2 linked regions of the Homo sapiens genome follow. The protein of the gene in region 2 interacts with the protein of the main gene of each other region in a pairwise test. Each region holds a gene or a part of one and is shown on either strand. Other genes may lie near its edges.

Evidence for each region. The genes of interacting proteins can lie anywhere in the genome.
Region 1: the proteins of CRELD2 (region 2) and NEK7 interact in binary tests that used the Homo sapiens proteins (3 or more experiments, as listed by UniProt).

What each region holds. Positions count from the first base shown.
Region 1 is NC_000001.11:198,313,984-198,321,009, reverse strand, and holds part of NEK7 (serine/threonine-protein kinase Nek7), read right to left. Parts: intron 1,599-7,026; coding exon 1,488-1,598; 3' UTR 1-1,487. UniProt on the Homo sapiens protein: Protein kinase which plays an important role in mitotic cell cycle progression. Required for microtubule nucleation activity of the centrosome, robust mitotic spindle formation and cytokinesis.
Region 2 is NC_000022.11:49,914,401-49,921,633, reverse strand, and holds the start of CRELD2 (protein disulfide isomerase CRELD2 isoform b precursor), read right to left. Parts: upstream 3,001-7,233; 5' UTR 2,865-3,000; coding exon 2,736-2,864; intron 2,405-2,735; coding exon 2,322-2,404; intron 1,905-2,321; coding exon 1,794-1,904; intron 1,479-1,793; coding exon 1,387-1,478; intron 50-1,386; coding exon 1-49. UniProt on the Homo sapiens protein: Protein disulfide isomerase. Might play a role in the unfolded protein response. May regulate transport of alpha4-beta2 neuronal acetylcholine receptor.

The sequences.
Region 1 (7,026 bases), on a different chromosome or scaffold from region 2:
TGACTTCCTCTTGGCCTTCAGGCTTCACAATTCTGTGAGAAACTGGTCGCCACTAATACGAAAGCATTCAGGGAAAACACATCTGCACAACAGCATTTACGAAATTCTGCCCATTTCCTTAAGCTACACGAAGTGTTACCATCTCAGTCATCTTCATGAACAAATACAGTACTTTACTCAAAAGCTTCTCAATAGAAATGTTAATCTCATAACAGTTCTGGCTGTAGTCATGGCCAGTTTTCATTTTATTAAGCATATTCTAGAATTACAACCTTGTCAAATAAATTGTAACTGTATCAACATTCACAGGTACAGTATAACACACATCCTTTCTTCCTCTTTAACAAGACCAAACATATGCATACAGAGTGGCCCAAATTTTAAAAAGTTTAAAAAAAGTTTTCAATCCAGGAAAAGTATTGGTATACCAAATATCTTTTAAAAGGGTATTATACTCTCAGAAAGTATGAAACATTAATGGATAAAATGCACATACAATATAAATAAGAAAGTAACTTGAAGAATAATATAAAAAAATTTCTGAAGGGGACCGATCAGAACTTCAATAAAACTTATGAATAAAAACTTAGGCTTATATTATAGTGTACAATTATGAGTTAAAATGCACTTAAATTTATAAAGAAATTGAAATATAGTACTGCAAGGTTATTCAAAGAATATTTTTCAAATGTACAAACAACAATAAAAACACACAAAAAAAGCCTTGGGCAATGTGCAACTTTAAAAATTATTATCACACCAGCTAAACAAATCCTTAACCACTTTTTAAATGGATTCATTTATACCATTTCAATGCAAAGAGAATATCAAAAATATTAAAACAAAACAAAAAACTCTTCAGTGTCTGACTCACATTTTGTCCCCAAATCTTCACATTTAATAGTTACATTTTGAATGTATAAGCTAAGAGTTCTAAATGTTTCTCAAATAGTTTGTGTCTACATTTATCATAAGAATCATATTTGAAAACTACTCTGCTAAGAACTAAAACTAGTACTTCAAACGTTTAAAAATAAAATCTTCACAAAAGTTCACAATTGTGTTCATCTCAATGTCCATAAATTACTAAAAAAGAAACAAGTCACATGTTCAGATACTTTTTCTCAGGTATGAGTCTATTCTGATGTGTGCCAAGCTGCACCTTCAATATTTGGCACTGACAGTCTATCTAAACACAATTTATCAGCAGAAAACTGTAAGAAATTCTATAAACCTTTAGCCATTCAAAACCATCATGTTTCATTTTCTCTCCTAACATGCAATTCAGTTATTCCAAAGTCATTTGGGGGTTGCAAGGAGGTGATTTAGGTGACTGGTACAAAATGAAGCTTATATGAAAACTGGTTAAGGATTCAAAGCACACTAGCTCTGAAATATTAATCTTAACACCAGACATAAATGGGGAGGTATGACTTGCACAAAATACTTTCAATTACTTTGGTTACACTCTTCATGATCTTGCATGTTTAGCTGCTTGCAGTGCATGCATGCATCCTCTTTGCTACGTCATAAACATAGGTGACGTCTGGTCGCTTCTCTGGATCTGGGTTGATGCACATATTAACTAACTGTCGGAGCTGTGAAGAAAGAAAAACAATAAAACCTGATTAAGACAACTATTTTTGGTTAGTTTACTGAGAGGAAGAAATTATGAATAGCTATAGATTTTACAAGGAAAGTACATTTTCTGACTAAACATTCACTGTACTAGAAATATATATAAGACTGCTGCCAATGATCTTACAATAAGTTAAATGTTCTATGAAGTGCATTGAATGGACAGTATTAATGTCAACCAAGAAGTATTTTCCACAATCAGAGGCTTTAAAATGGACTCTCTTAATTTTTCAGAGTTTAATCAGAAGATAGCAGTCACTGAGGACACTAGTCTTATAACTATAAGTCTCCAAGTTAACTGTAAATACACACATACATATTTGATCTAGAATCTACTACAACAGACTTAATTGTAAGTTTAAATGGAAGGCAATTAGAGTTGACATACATTTATAATGAACCATTTTGTACAAATATATATTAAAAGTTTTATGTTAAATTTTGTATTAGAGAAAAAAACACTCCTTTAAACTAATTATAATAAATTATATGGGAAGTTATAAGTGTTATTCCAATCCTCAATTGTGTACACAGTATTTAAATGTCCTCACTTTATAGATGAGAGAGTTGAGGTTTACTATTTTATTCTATTTATATCATAGAATAAAAGCAGATTTCAATAAATTAAGAAACTACCCTCCTATATGGTCCTCGATCCATCGGGTAGAAGAACATAGCATTTTATTGTCAATTCTAATTTCCATCAGTTTATGAAACTATGTGTCATCATAACATTGTATATGATCTTCATAGACAATAAACTAAGAGGAAAAACTATATTCTTTTGCTTTGTAGGTCTCTTTAGGAACAGTTTAGACATTTTGAGAATTTGCATTAACTCTGGCCACGATATAGCACTTAGTAAATTTTTAAATTAGCACAATTTCTTCATAGTTCTCAATTTCTACCATAAAATAACTTTCAACCAGAGAAAATACAAGTGATGATTAAAAAGCTTGGGCTGAAGATGTTGCTAGTGCTATGGAGAAGGCTAATGGCACTGAGAAATGTCATTCTGAAAGAGGAGGTGGGTCAAAGAGTCTGCCAGATGAAGGGTCAGAGTTTGGTAAGGAGTACAGTGAAATGGAAACCAGTCTTGTTGAAGGCACTTTGTAGCTCTGTGCCCTTGGGTAAGTCACTGTCTCTGGAGGTTCATTTCTTCATCTATTAAATAGGGAAGTTGGAGTGGATGACCTATAAGGGCTGTTCTCATCCTAATCTCTTACATTTTACGATTCTAGCAGAATGAAATTTAATGAATCAATTTTAGCTACACTTGGAAATTCAACAATGTTTCATAGTAATGTTACACCCACTGGGAGAGCCTGAAGATTTTAATTTATATTCCTTCCAAAAGAGCAGAGAACAGCATTTAAAACCCTTAAGGGGTACAGCAATACACAAAGCATTTTATTATGGTGATCTAAGAGAAATTTACATCAGAAAGAGACTGGCATTTTACCAGGTTACCAAAAAAAAAAAAAAAAAAAAAAATAAATATATCCAGTAATACACAATGCAGAAGAAAGTGGGAAAAGCACTTACATAATGACACATAATTTAAAAGATAATGTGTTCTAATGGGTCATCTAGCTGTCAGATATTTTCTTTAGAGATAAAAACAAGAAAGCAAGCAGAAAGAATAGCAGGAAAAGATAACCATGGTACAAAAAGTTCATTATATTTAGCTAAAATACAAGTAGATGCATGCAGTAAACAATTTTTTGACTTCCTAACACTGCCACATCCTTCAAGCTGGTTCAGAAACCTTAACTTTTCCTGTGTAATAATTCAGAATAGGGTAGAATTTCCAACCACTAAGAATGAATGACTGGCCCTTAAGTTCTCCTGGCATGAGGAAAAACCAAGATTAGAGATATAATGATGCACGTTTAGTTGAAGCAGACAGTGATTCTCTAGTTCACCAAAGTAAAAAGACAAGAATTGGGAATAACAAAAAGGGAGAAAGACACTGAATAAGGTAAATAGGTAGTGGGAGTGCCAGTGAGCAGATGCTTCTAAACTGCTCCTTTAAGGATGGCCTTTCAAAGGGATGACAGGTCAATTGGTGACCTTGCGACAGGCAGAGCCACAGCACCTTGGAGTTTGCTTTTCCTTCCCCACTTATTGATTCAATCTCCACCAAATACGAAGTGTATCTTGTCATAAAGAGTTTCCTTTTCCAGAAGAATCAAAAGGGCTATCACCATATAAAATCAGATATGTGAAATACAGAATATGCATACTTTACTATATTTATGAATCAATCTGTTGATAACTTTTCCTCAATTATTTGTTACATTAAAAAATTAATAAAGTATAAAAAGAAAGAAAACCTACGAAATTAAAATATGCTTTGGGAATGCTCCCACTTATCCACTCCAGCAACATTTCTAGATGATCTACTCTGCAAGAGACACTATGCTGGTGATACTTGATGGCACCGGATAAGACAAAGGACCTGTCCACAAGGGAAGGCTTGTTGTCCAGCATGAGAAGTGAGAGAATGACTCATTTTCCTTTCTAACCATCTGACTCTTTTGTTCTTTCTTTTTGCCCCCTCTTCCATTTTCATCCGTTCATTCAATTGTTCATTCAATAGTTTCCAATGGAGTATTTATTATGTACCAGACACTTTGTTAGGTAGTAAGGATAAAGCAATAATGAAAAATACACAGCACAGGCCCTTAAACAGCCTACAATCTAGCGGAAGATAGACAGAACAAAGAAACAAATGTGAAAGTGAGGAAATCACAGAAATAATTCTATTATAAACTACAAAGTGATAGGTATCTCAAGAGATATCTGTGAGATAAAGGTAAAAGATTAAGTGTGGCTGCCCAGAGGAGGAAATAATTACTTTCCTCTTTTTCTAAAATCTGTTTAACTATGAGTTGTTGCACCTCGTACACGGAGGTATCGATACCCACACAGCTGACAGTATCCTTCTCCATTCCAAGTACTGCAACCCTCATCTTGGGTCACTTTCACATTTATTTGATGTGAATCAATATAAATCTCTTTGATTACCTGACTGTAATCTTCACCTTCATACCAATTTAGTCTCTGTCTTCCAAGGACACAGCCTGTTTCTTAAAATGCTGTGTCACATCAGAAATGTAAGCACACACAACTGTCCTTCTGTGTCTCTCCCTCCCTTCCTCCAGTATGGTTGTGTTTGATTTGACTGAGACCATTTCCAATCCCTTTCATCCTGGTCAGCTCTATCCTTTTGGATTTACATCATTCAATTCCGGCCTAGACCTTCTCTTCCCTGACGTTTTCTTCCTAGTTTCTTTTGGAGGTTTATCTTCCTTTGAAAAATCTACCAAATGTTGGTATGCCCTAAATATTTTCCTTTCCTTAACTCTTTTCCTGTTTCACTCTTCCTTCTTATCTTCAACAACTGCACTTACTCCCATGCCTTCAATAACCACCAACATGCTGAGGAACACAGGTTATCTGTCTCCAGCCTAGACCTCTTTGCAGGCTCTGTTCCCATACTTCCAACTGCCTTCTGAGTAGAGCTGCACGTAAATATTCACATTAAACATGTTTAAAACTGAAATATTAGTATTTTTTTCTCCCCAACCAGCTCTTCCTAACAGCACCTCCAACTTCTTAAGTCAAAAATTTGAAATTCATATCAAACATCTCATCATACTTCCTTCCCACCTGCCTAACCGTCAGCAACCAGTCCTATTGGTCTCAGGCTCCTTAAACCTTTTGTTTGCTCCTGCCACACCATCTCCACTGCCACACTCTTGGATAGTCTTCCAGCTGACGGCTTTGCTTTCAGTTGTCTTCCTATTTCTCTAGCACTGCCTAACTAGCCAGGTGATGCTTCAACTTTAAGCATTTCAATGGCTCCTCATACCTCTTAGAAAAGCTAAGGCCCACCATAGATGGGGAGGAGGAGCCAAGATGGCCGAATAGGAACAGCTCCAGTCTACAGCTCCCAGCGTAAGCGACGCAGAAGACGGGTGATTTCTGCATTTCCATCTGAGGTACCGGGTTCATCTCACTAGGGAGTGCCAGACAGTGGGCGCAGGTCAGTGGGTGCGCGCACCATGCGCGAGCCGAAGCAGGGCGAGGCATTGCCTCACTCGGGAAGCGCAAGGGGTCAGAGAGTTCCCTTACCTAGTCAAAGAAAGGGGTGACAGACGGCACCTGGAAAATCAGGTCACTCCCACCTGAATACTGCGCTTTTCCGACGGGCTTAAAAAAACGGCGCACCAGGAGACTATATCCCGCATCTGGCTCGGAGGGTCCTACGCCCATGGAGTCTCCCTGATTGCTAGCACAGCAGTCTTGAGATCAAACTGCAAGGTGGCGGCGAGGCTGGGGGAGGGGCGCCCGCCATTGCCCAGGCGTGCTTAGGTAAACAAAGCAGCCGGGAAGCACCAACTGGGTGGAGCTCACCACAGCTCAAGGAGACCTGCCTGCCTCTGTAGGCTCCACCTCTGGGGGCAGGGCACAGACAAACAAAAGGACAGCAGTAACCTCTGAAGACTTAAATGTCCCTGTCTGACAGCTTTGAAGAGAGCAGTGGTTCTCCCAGCAGGCAGCTGGAGATCTGAGAACGGGCAGACTGCCTCCTCAAGTGGGTCTCTGACCCCTGACCCCTGAGCAGCCTAACTGGGAGGCACCCCCCTGCAGGGGCATACTGACACCTCACACGGCCGGGTACTCAAACAGACTTGCAGCTGAGGGTCCTGTCTGTTAGAAGGAAAACTAACAAACAGAAACGACATCCACACCAAAAACCCACCTGTACATCACCATCATCAAAGACCAAAAGTAGATAAAACCACAAAGATGGGGAAAAAACAGAGCAGAAAAACTGGAAACTCTAAAAAGCAGAGCGCCTCTCCTCCTCCAAAGGAATGCAGTTCCTCACCAGCAACGGAACAAAGCTGGACTGACAATGACTTTGACAAGCTGAGAGAAGAAGACTTCAGACGATCAAATTACTCCGAGCTACGGGAGGACATTCAAACCAAAGGCAAAGAAGTTGAAAACTTTGAAAAAAATTTAGAAGAATGTATAACTAGAATAACCATTACAGAGAAGTGCTTAAAGGAGCTGATGGAGCTGAAAACCAAGGCTCGAGAACTACGTGAAGAATGCAGAAGCCTCAGGAGCCAATGCAATCAACTGGAAGAAAGGGTATCAGCGATGGAAGATGAAATGAATGAAATGAAGCGAGAAGGGAAGTTTAGAGAAAAAAGAATAAAAAGAAACGAGCAAAGCCTCCAAGAAATATGGGACTATGTGAAAGGACCAAATCTACGTCTGATTGGTGTACCTGAAAGTGACGGGGAGAATGGAACCAAGTTGGAAAACACTCTGCAGGATATTATCCGGGAGAACTTCCCCAATCTAGCA
Region 2 (7,233 bases):
CTGCAGTGGCCATTCCCGCTGCAGGGCCTCTGGGATCCGCCCTGGCATGCTTTAGGGGACACAAAACCATGCTCAGAGCACACCTGGTGGTGACCGGTGCGGTGTTCTCACACGGAGAGAACGCATGGCACCCAAACCCTGTACGATTCTGAGGACGTACATGAGCCTGAAGGCTTGGAGTGGGTGTTTGGGGAAACTGATTTCCTGGGTCTGCAGGGCTGGCGGTGGATCGCCTGAGTGGAGCAAGCCACAGGCTCCTGGGCTTCACTATGGCCACGTGCTGCATGATGACGTTTAGGTCAACAAGGGACCCTGCATAGCACAGCTGTCCCCTAAGATGATACTAAAGCTGAGCGGCTCTTATTGCCTAGTGACATCACAATGTGCCTCATTACCTGTTCTATGTTTAGATGTGTTCAGGTGACACATTCTTACCACGTGCCAAATGGCCCACAGTACTCAGGACCCTCACGAGCCGTGCAGGTGTGCGGCCTGGGAGCAGCAGGGCCTGCCAGGCAGCCTAGGTGCAGAGCGGCTGCACCATCTAGGCGTGTGGCGTGTGGCGTGTGGAGTGCACGCTGTGATGTTTGCACCATGACAAAGTCGCCTAATGACGCATTTCTCAGAACACGCCTGGTCGTTACACATGACTGCACTTTGTGTGGCTTTGGGCAGCCTCAGCTGAAACATGGTGATAGGGACACTGACGCGTCAGGCGCGGGGACTGCAGGGAGAGTGGGAACATTAGCTGCGGCCTCCAGTGCATGCCAGGGACAGCAGCAGGGGCTGGCAGAAGGCTGATGGTGGGCGGGTGGGGGGTCTGAACCTGAAACTTCTGCTACCTGATCTCGCTTGACCACGAGATTGGCTTTTATAAACAGTAAACCGTGACTTCAGTTTCAATGCACACTTCTTCACAGAAGAGCCCTGTCCCTTGGCACCCATTGGGGCTCAAGGCCATGTGCCCAGCCTGATAGACACCCAGTGCCCTGCGCTCTCTGCAATAGCAGCCACAGAAGTTGTGGTGTGGTCACCTCTGTGCACACAGGGAGAAGCACCTGGACAGGTCAGTCAGGACAGACTCTCAGGTGAGTGGACTCAGCTGTGAACAACCTGAGTCTGTGAACCCCTGAATTAACAGCACAGCTGGGAAGACATACTCAGAGTTTTACGCTAAAGCATGAGGTTAGTGGTGAGGCTGCAGCCAGACGGTGCGAAGTGCTCCAAGCTGTGTTGGGGATGGGGGAGGCAGCCATCCGGCAGGGTCCCAGACCCTACAGAAAGCTGATGCACCCCAGGTCCCCTCTGTGCTTTTACCTCCCAAGAATCATGAGAAGAAGAGGGGAAGTGACGTAGGAGATGGGATTTCCCTGAGGAGAAACGCACCGAGACAGTCGGGACCGTAGGTTCCTGGAGAGCAGCACACTTTCAGTGTCTTCACACAAAACCACTCGAATAAGTCAGGATATTCGCTCTTCCTGAGGATGGAGGAAAACATTCACTGAATCCCAGCAGACACGGTTCTTTAAAACAAACATGCAGCTGAACGTAACATATGCTCTGGAGTATTGTAAGGTCCAGGAAACAAGAGTCTAGGTGTGGACAGAATCTTCTCCTTAATTTCCTGGTTTTGATCGCTGACTCTGGTGATAAAAAACGGTAATGCAGGGGTAAGGTGGGTGCGAGGCAGGTGGGAGCTCCCTACTGTTCCTGTACCTTTCTAAGTCTGAGGTTATTTCAAATTCTAAGTTGGAAAATAAAAAGTATCTTCTAAGAGGTTTTAAGGCACTCACAGCTGCAGCCACCAGGCCTCCAGGTGCTCCTCCTGCGCCTCTAGCATCTGATTGCATTCGAAGTCGCTGCTCTCGCACAGCCCCTCCAGGATCTCCAGCAGGCGAATCTCGCTGAAACACAGGCCCACACCGGCCCACCGTCAGCGCCTCCAAGGCAGTGAAGAAAAATCCGAACCAATACGCCAACCTGGGTGCAGGGGCCGGGGAGCCAGGACTCCGGGCACAGAGAATAAGGGGACCCCACTGTCAGGGGAAGCCAGGAGCGGTTCCCACAAGTGGGGCTGGTGTTCCAGTTTACATTTTGAAAAGCCACTGTCTGTTGAGGGGGTAGGGACCAGAGCAGAAGCTGGAAGGCCAGAGAGGGGCCAGCCATTAGTCCTCAGGGAGAAGCCGAGGTGACTCGGACGGGTGACTGGTGCCTCGGGGGCTGTTCTGTCTCCCTGTCATTAACACAGGCACCAAAGGCAGGACACGACTTCCCAGGACAGCGCCAGGCCAAGACCCACAGGGGTGCTCCAGGGCACCCACCTGGACTCGTACTTGGACAGCGTCTTTTCCTCCCAAGCCGTGTTCCCGCCGCCAAAGTTCTTCTTTGCGGTGTCCACCATCCCCTGCGAGGAGACAGTGCCCATAGTGCTTGGTACCACCTGACCCGGGTCCAGGGTGGGGGCGAGCCCAGGTCGAGGGTGAGGGGACTCCAGGCCCACGGTGGCGTCGACCCTGGTTCCACGGTGGGGGTGGATCCGGGTCAAGGGTGAGGGGGACTCCAGGACCACGGTGGAGGGACTCTGGATCGACGGTGAGGGGGATCCCGAATCCAGGGTGAGGGGGACCCCGGATCCAGGGTGAGGGCGACCCTGGGCCCAAGGTGGGGCGACCCCGGATGCAGGGTGAGGGGGACCCCGGGCCCAAGGTTGACGACCCCGCCCGGCCCCTTCCCACCTGGTTAAACTTGTCCACCAGCCCCCGGCACCGGTGGCAGGGCGTCGGCTTCTTGGCGGCCTCCGGCGCGGGCGGCAGCAGCAGCAGAAGCGGCAGGAGCCCCAGCGCGGCCCGGCGCGGCAGGCGCATGGCGGGTAGCGCTGCGGGAAGACGCAGCCGGAGCTCCAGGTCCTGCGGCCGTGCTGCTCCGGCCTCCCGGCCGCCCACCCGCTCCCAGCCGCGCCGGCCTGTCCCCCAGGCTACTTGACGGCGCCGGCGAGGCCCCGCCCCACCCGCCAGCCCCGCGCCGCTATTGGTTGATGGGACCCGCCCCGGCCTGATATGGCCCAATCCGAGTTCGCCACGAGAGGTGACCAATGGGAAGGCCCCGGATCAGCGGCCGCCAGGAGTCCGGGGGCGGGGCGTGCAGGTCCGACCCCGCCTCCCGCTCCCCGCCCCTCGCGCGCAGCCCGCGGCGGCCATCTTTACTCAGGGCACAGAGGGTCTCTGCGGCCGTAGCGGCCGGGGCTGCGGTAGCCACTTTAGATTTGGGCAAGGACTTTAGATTCGGGCTCTGTTCTGTTTCCGCCGTCCTGCTTCCTGCCGAGGCTGGCCCAGGCAGCCGCGCTTCGAAGGACGCCGCCGGGAGCTGCGGAGGTCAGTGCGCGCTGCCGCGACCGGGGCCTTCAGGCGGGCGCGCGGCGAGACCAGGGAGGAGGCGGGCGAGGGCGCGACCCGAGCTGGCGCTGGCGCTGGATTCCTGAGGCCTCACCGCGCATGTCCACGCGTCACAGCCCCGTGCTCCTTACCTGGGGCTGCACCCCTCACTTGGGGCCGGGCTCCTCACCTGGGGCTGGACCTGTCACCTGGGGGCCAGACCTCTCACCCGGGGGCCGGACCTCTCATCCGGGGGCCCGACCTCTCACCTGGGGCTGGACCTCTCACCTGGGGCCGGGCTCCTCACCTGGGGCCGGACCTCCCACCTGGGGGATGGGTTTTTCACCTGGGGGCTGGGGATCTGGGGTCCACTTAGGGTCTCTGGGGGCTGGGGATCTGCATTTCTACAGGCGCTTGAGGTGATGAACACTCGCTCATGTTCAGGAACCCCTGGTTTAAATTAGGGGAAATAAAACGTGCAGCGTCTGGATTTCAGAGAACTCCTGCCTGTGGAAGGAAGGAGTGCAGATAACACTGCACATTTAAAAAAAAAAAAAGTAACATCTGATTTGACCAGTTTCTTTTCTGTTTTTTTGAGACGGAGTCTCACTTTGTCGCCCAGGCTGGAGTGCAGTGGCGCGATCTCAGCTCACTGCAAGCTCCGCCTTCCAGGTTCCTGTGATTCTGCTGCCTCAGCCTCCTAAGTTGGGATTACAGGCACCCACCACCAGGTCCGGCTAATTTTTGTATTTTTAGTAGAGACGGGGTTTCACCATGTTGGCCAGGCTGGTCTCGAAGTCCTGACCTCAAGCGATCTGCCTGCCTCAGCCTCCCAAAGTGCTAGGGTTACAGGCGTGAGCCACCATGCTTAGCCTGATTTGATCAATTTCGGTAGAGGCCTTAAAATCTGGATTGATGGGGACAAGAGGGTCTTTGCAGGTCATTCCCTAATCTGAGATGCCATTGTTCTGTAAACCACCATTTTAAAGTGTCATGGCCTGGGCCCGTTTTAACCTGTGGGTGCTCTCGAAGCACCCGTCACTTAGATTAGCCACAGCTGCTGCCCAGCTGCCCAGCAGAGTGGGCTAGTGCAGGACAGTGTCCGTTCACCCTCGCCTGGTGGGGGGTTCGTCGTGGTTTTCGTGCTTGCTGGTGTTGACTTGGTCTTCCCGTGCTCCTGGCAGAGAATCCAGACTCACCCTTGGTCTTCTCATGCCCTCGAAAGTGAGCTGTGCTGGTCATCAGCAGAAGGCACACCTTGTTGGGTCCGAGGAGGTGCTGGGGGCCCGCCAGGAGTGTCAGAGTCAGCACGTAATGTTTTCACCCCACAGCTGAACTCTTCCTTGCTGGGGAACTCCCCTGGGTGGAGAGGTGTGGAGTGGGGTTGTGGGGGACTGCCAAGCAGCACTTGCTGTGTGCACCTCCCACATCTTGGCACGTAGATGCTCCCCGTTCCGTTTTATTTTTTATTTTTGTAGAAATGGGGTCTCATGATGTAGCCCAAGTTGGTCTTGAACTCCGGGCCTCAAGCAGTACCCCCCATGTCAGCTTCCTGAGTAGCTGGGATTATTTTTGTGGAGATGGGGTCTGGCTCTGTAGCCCAGGTTGGTCTTGAACTCCTGAGTAGCTGGAATTACAGGCGTGAGCCAACACATCCGGCTTGCTTCCTATTTCTTTTTTTTTGAGACGGAGTCTGGCTCTGTTGTCCAGGCTGGAGTACAGTGGTGCGATCTTGGCTTGCTGCAACCTCTGCCTCCCGAGTTCAAGCAATTCTCCTCCTCTGCCTTCCAAGTAGTTGGGATTACAGGCGCACACCACCATGCCCAGCTAATTTTTGTATTTTTAGTAGAGATGAGGTTTCACCATGCTGGCTAGGCTGGTCTTGAATTCCTGACCTTGTGATCCACCCACCTCAGCCTCCCAAAGTGCTGGGATTACAGGCATGAGCCACCACGCCCGGCCGTTGGAACATATTTTTATTTAATTTAATTAATTTATTTATTTATTTTTGAGATGGAGTCTTGCTCTGTCGCCCAGGCAGGAGTGCAGTGGCGCGATCTCGGCTCACTGCAAGCTCCACCTCCTGGGTTCACACCATTCTCCTGCCTCAGCCTCCCAAGTAGCTGGGACTACTCGCCACCACTCCAGCTAATTTTTTTGTATTTTTAGTAGAGACGGGGTTTTACCATGTTGGCCAAGCTGGTCTCGATCTCTTGACCTTGTGATCCACCCGCCTCAGCCTCCCAAAGTGCTGGGATTACAGGAATGAGCCACCGCTCCCGGCTGCTGGAATTTTTAATAAGCACGTGAGCTGGTGTGATGAGAACCCCATGTAGGAGTTTTTACCGATTTCTTCTTCGGCAGCCTTGTTGAGTGCCTACTGTGCGGCAGGCTTTGCTGATTCAGCAGTGAGTCCACCAAGCAAGCCCTGCCCGCAGGATGAGTCCAGCAGGGGAGGTGGCAGCGAGGCAGCCTTCAGGCCACAGCGGCTGGCCTCTGTCCTTGGTGCTGAGGCTGCGCTGGTGGGAAAAATCATCCAGCATCAAAAACCCCCCACCGTCAAAAAGCTTGTGTCTTAGCAAGTGGGAGACAGCTGAGTGGGCCCTCCCTCAGTTAGTGATTCCTAACCTAGTCCTTCGACCTTTCTCTTTGTTTGATACCAAGTTTATTTTTTTAAATTTTTTTATTATCTATTTATTTATTTCTGAGACGGAGTCACGCTCTGTGGCCCAGACTGGATTTCAGTGGTGTGATCTCGGCTCACTGCGGCCTCTGCCTCCTGGGCTCAAGCGATTCTCCTGCCTTAGCCTCCCGAGTAGCTGGGATTATAGGCGTGCACTACCATGCCCAGCTAATTTTTGTATTTTTAGTAGAGACAGGGTTTCACCATGTTGGCCAGGATGGTCTTGATCTGCTGACCTCGTGATCCACCCACCTCAGCCTCCCGAAGAGCTGGGATTATGGGAATGAGCCACCGCACCTGGCCCTCAGCCTCCCAAAGAGCTGGGATTACGGGAATGAGCGACCGCGCCCGGCCCCAGGTTTTTATATTTGGCAAAGGAGAGAACTGCATACCATTTCAGTCGTAAAATTATTAAAGCTTTCTTTTTTCTTTCTCTCCACCCCCTGCCCACCATATCAAATAGGGTTCTCCTTCCTTCTAATCTACAGATTTTCCTTTGGTTGCCATCTTTGTATACTTCTTAACTCTCCGTTTGATCAAAAGATAGTTTTGGCTGGGCATGGTGGCCCACGCCTGTAATCCCAATACTTCAGGAGGCCAAGGTAGGAAGATGGCTTGAAGCCAGGAATTCCATACCAGCCTGGGCTACAAAGCAAGACCCTGTCTTTACAAAAAATAAGAAAACTTAGCTGAGTGTGGTGACCCACACCTGTAGCTGCGGCTACTCAGGAGGCTCAGGCAAAAGGATCCCAGGAGTTTGAGGCTGCAGTGAGCCATGATCACTCCACTGCACTCCAGCTTGGGTGACAGAGTAAGACGCTGTCTCTTAAAAAAAATTTTTAAAGTAGTTTTAATAAATGGTAAGCCCTGGGGTTCTCTCTCCCTTTGCTTCTGGCCCTTCTGGTTTGGATTGAATAAAATCAAATCTGTTTTAAAAGAAGCCAGAAACGTGAAGAGTTTGCCCCCTCCCCTCCCTTGGTCTCTCACGTGTAGCAGCTGGACATGTTGCTGGCCTCTCAGGAAGCTCCGTGCCACGGGCCCCTGAGGTTGTCCTGTTAGTGTTTGGGGGACCCATTGCCAGTCTTCCCAGGCTCACATGCAGGCTCATGGCCAGTGTGGTGCCACCTTTGGGAAAGCCGGCCATGGCTTCTCCCAGCCCCCAGGGTGGGGTTCGGCGCA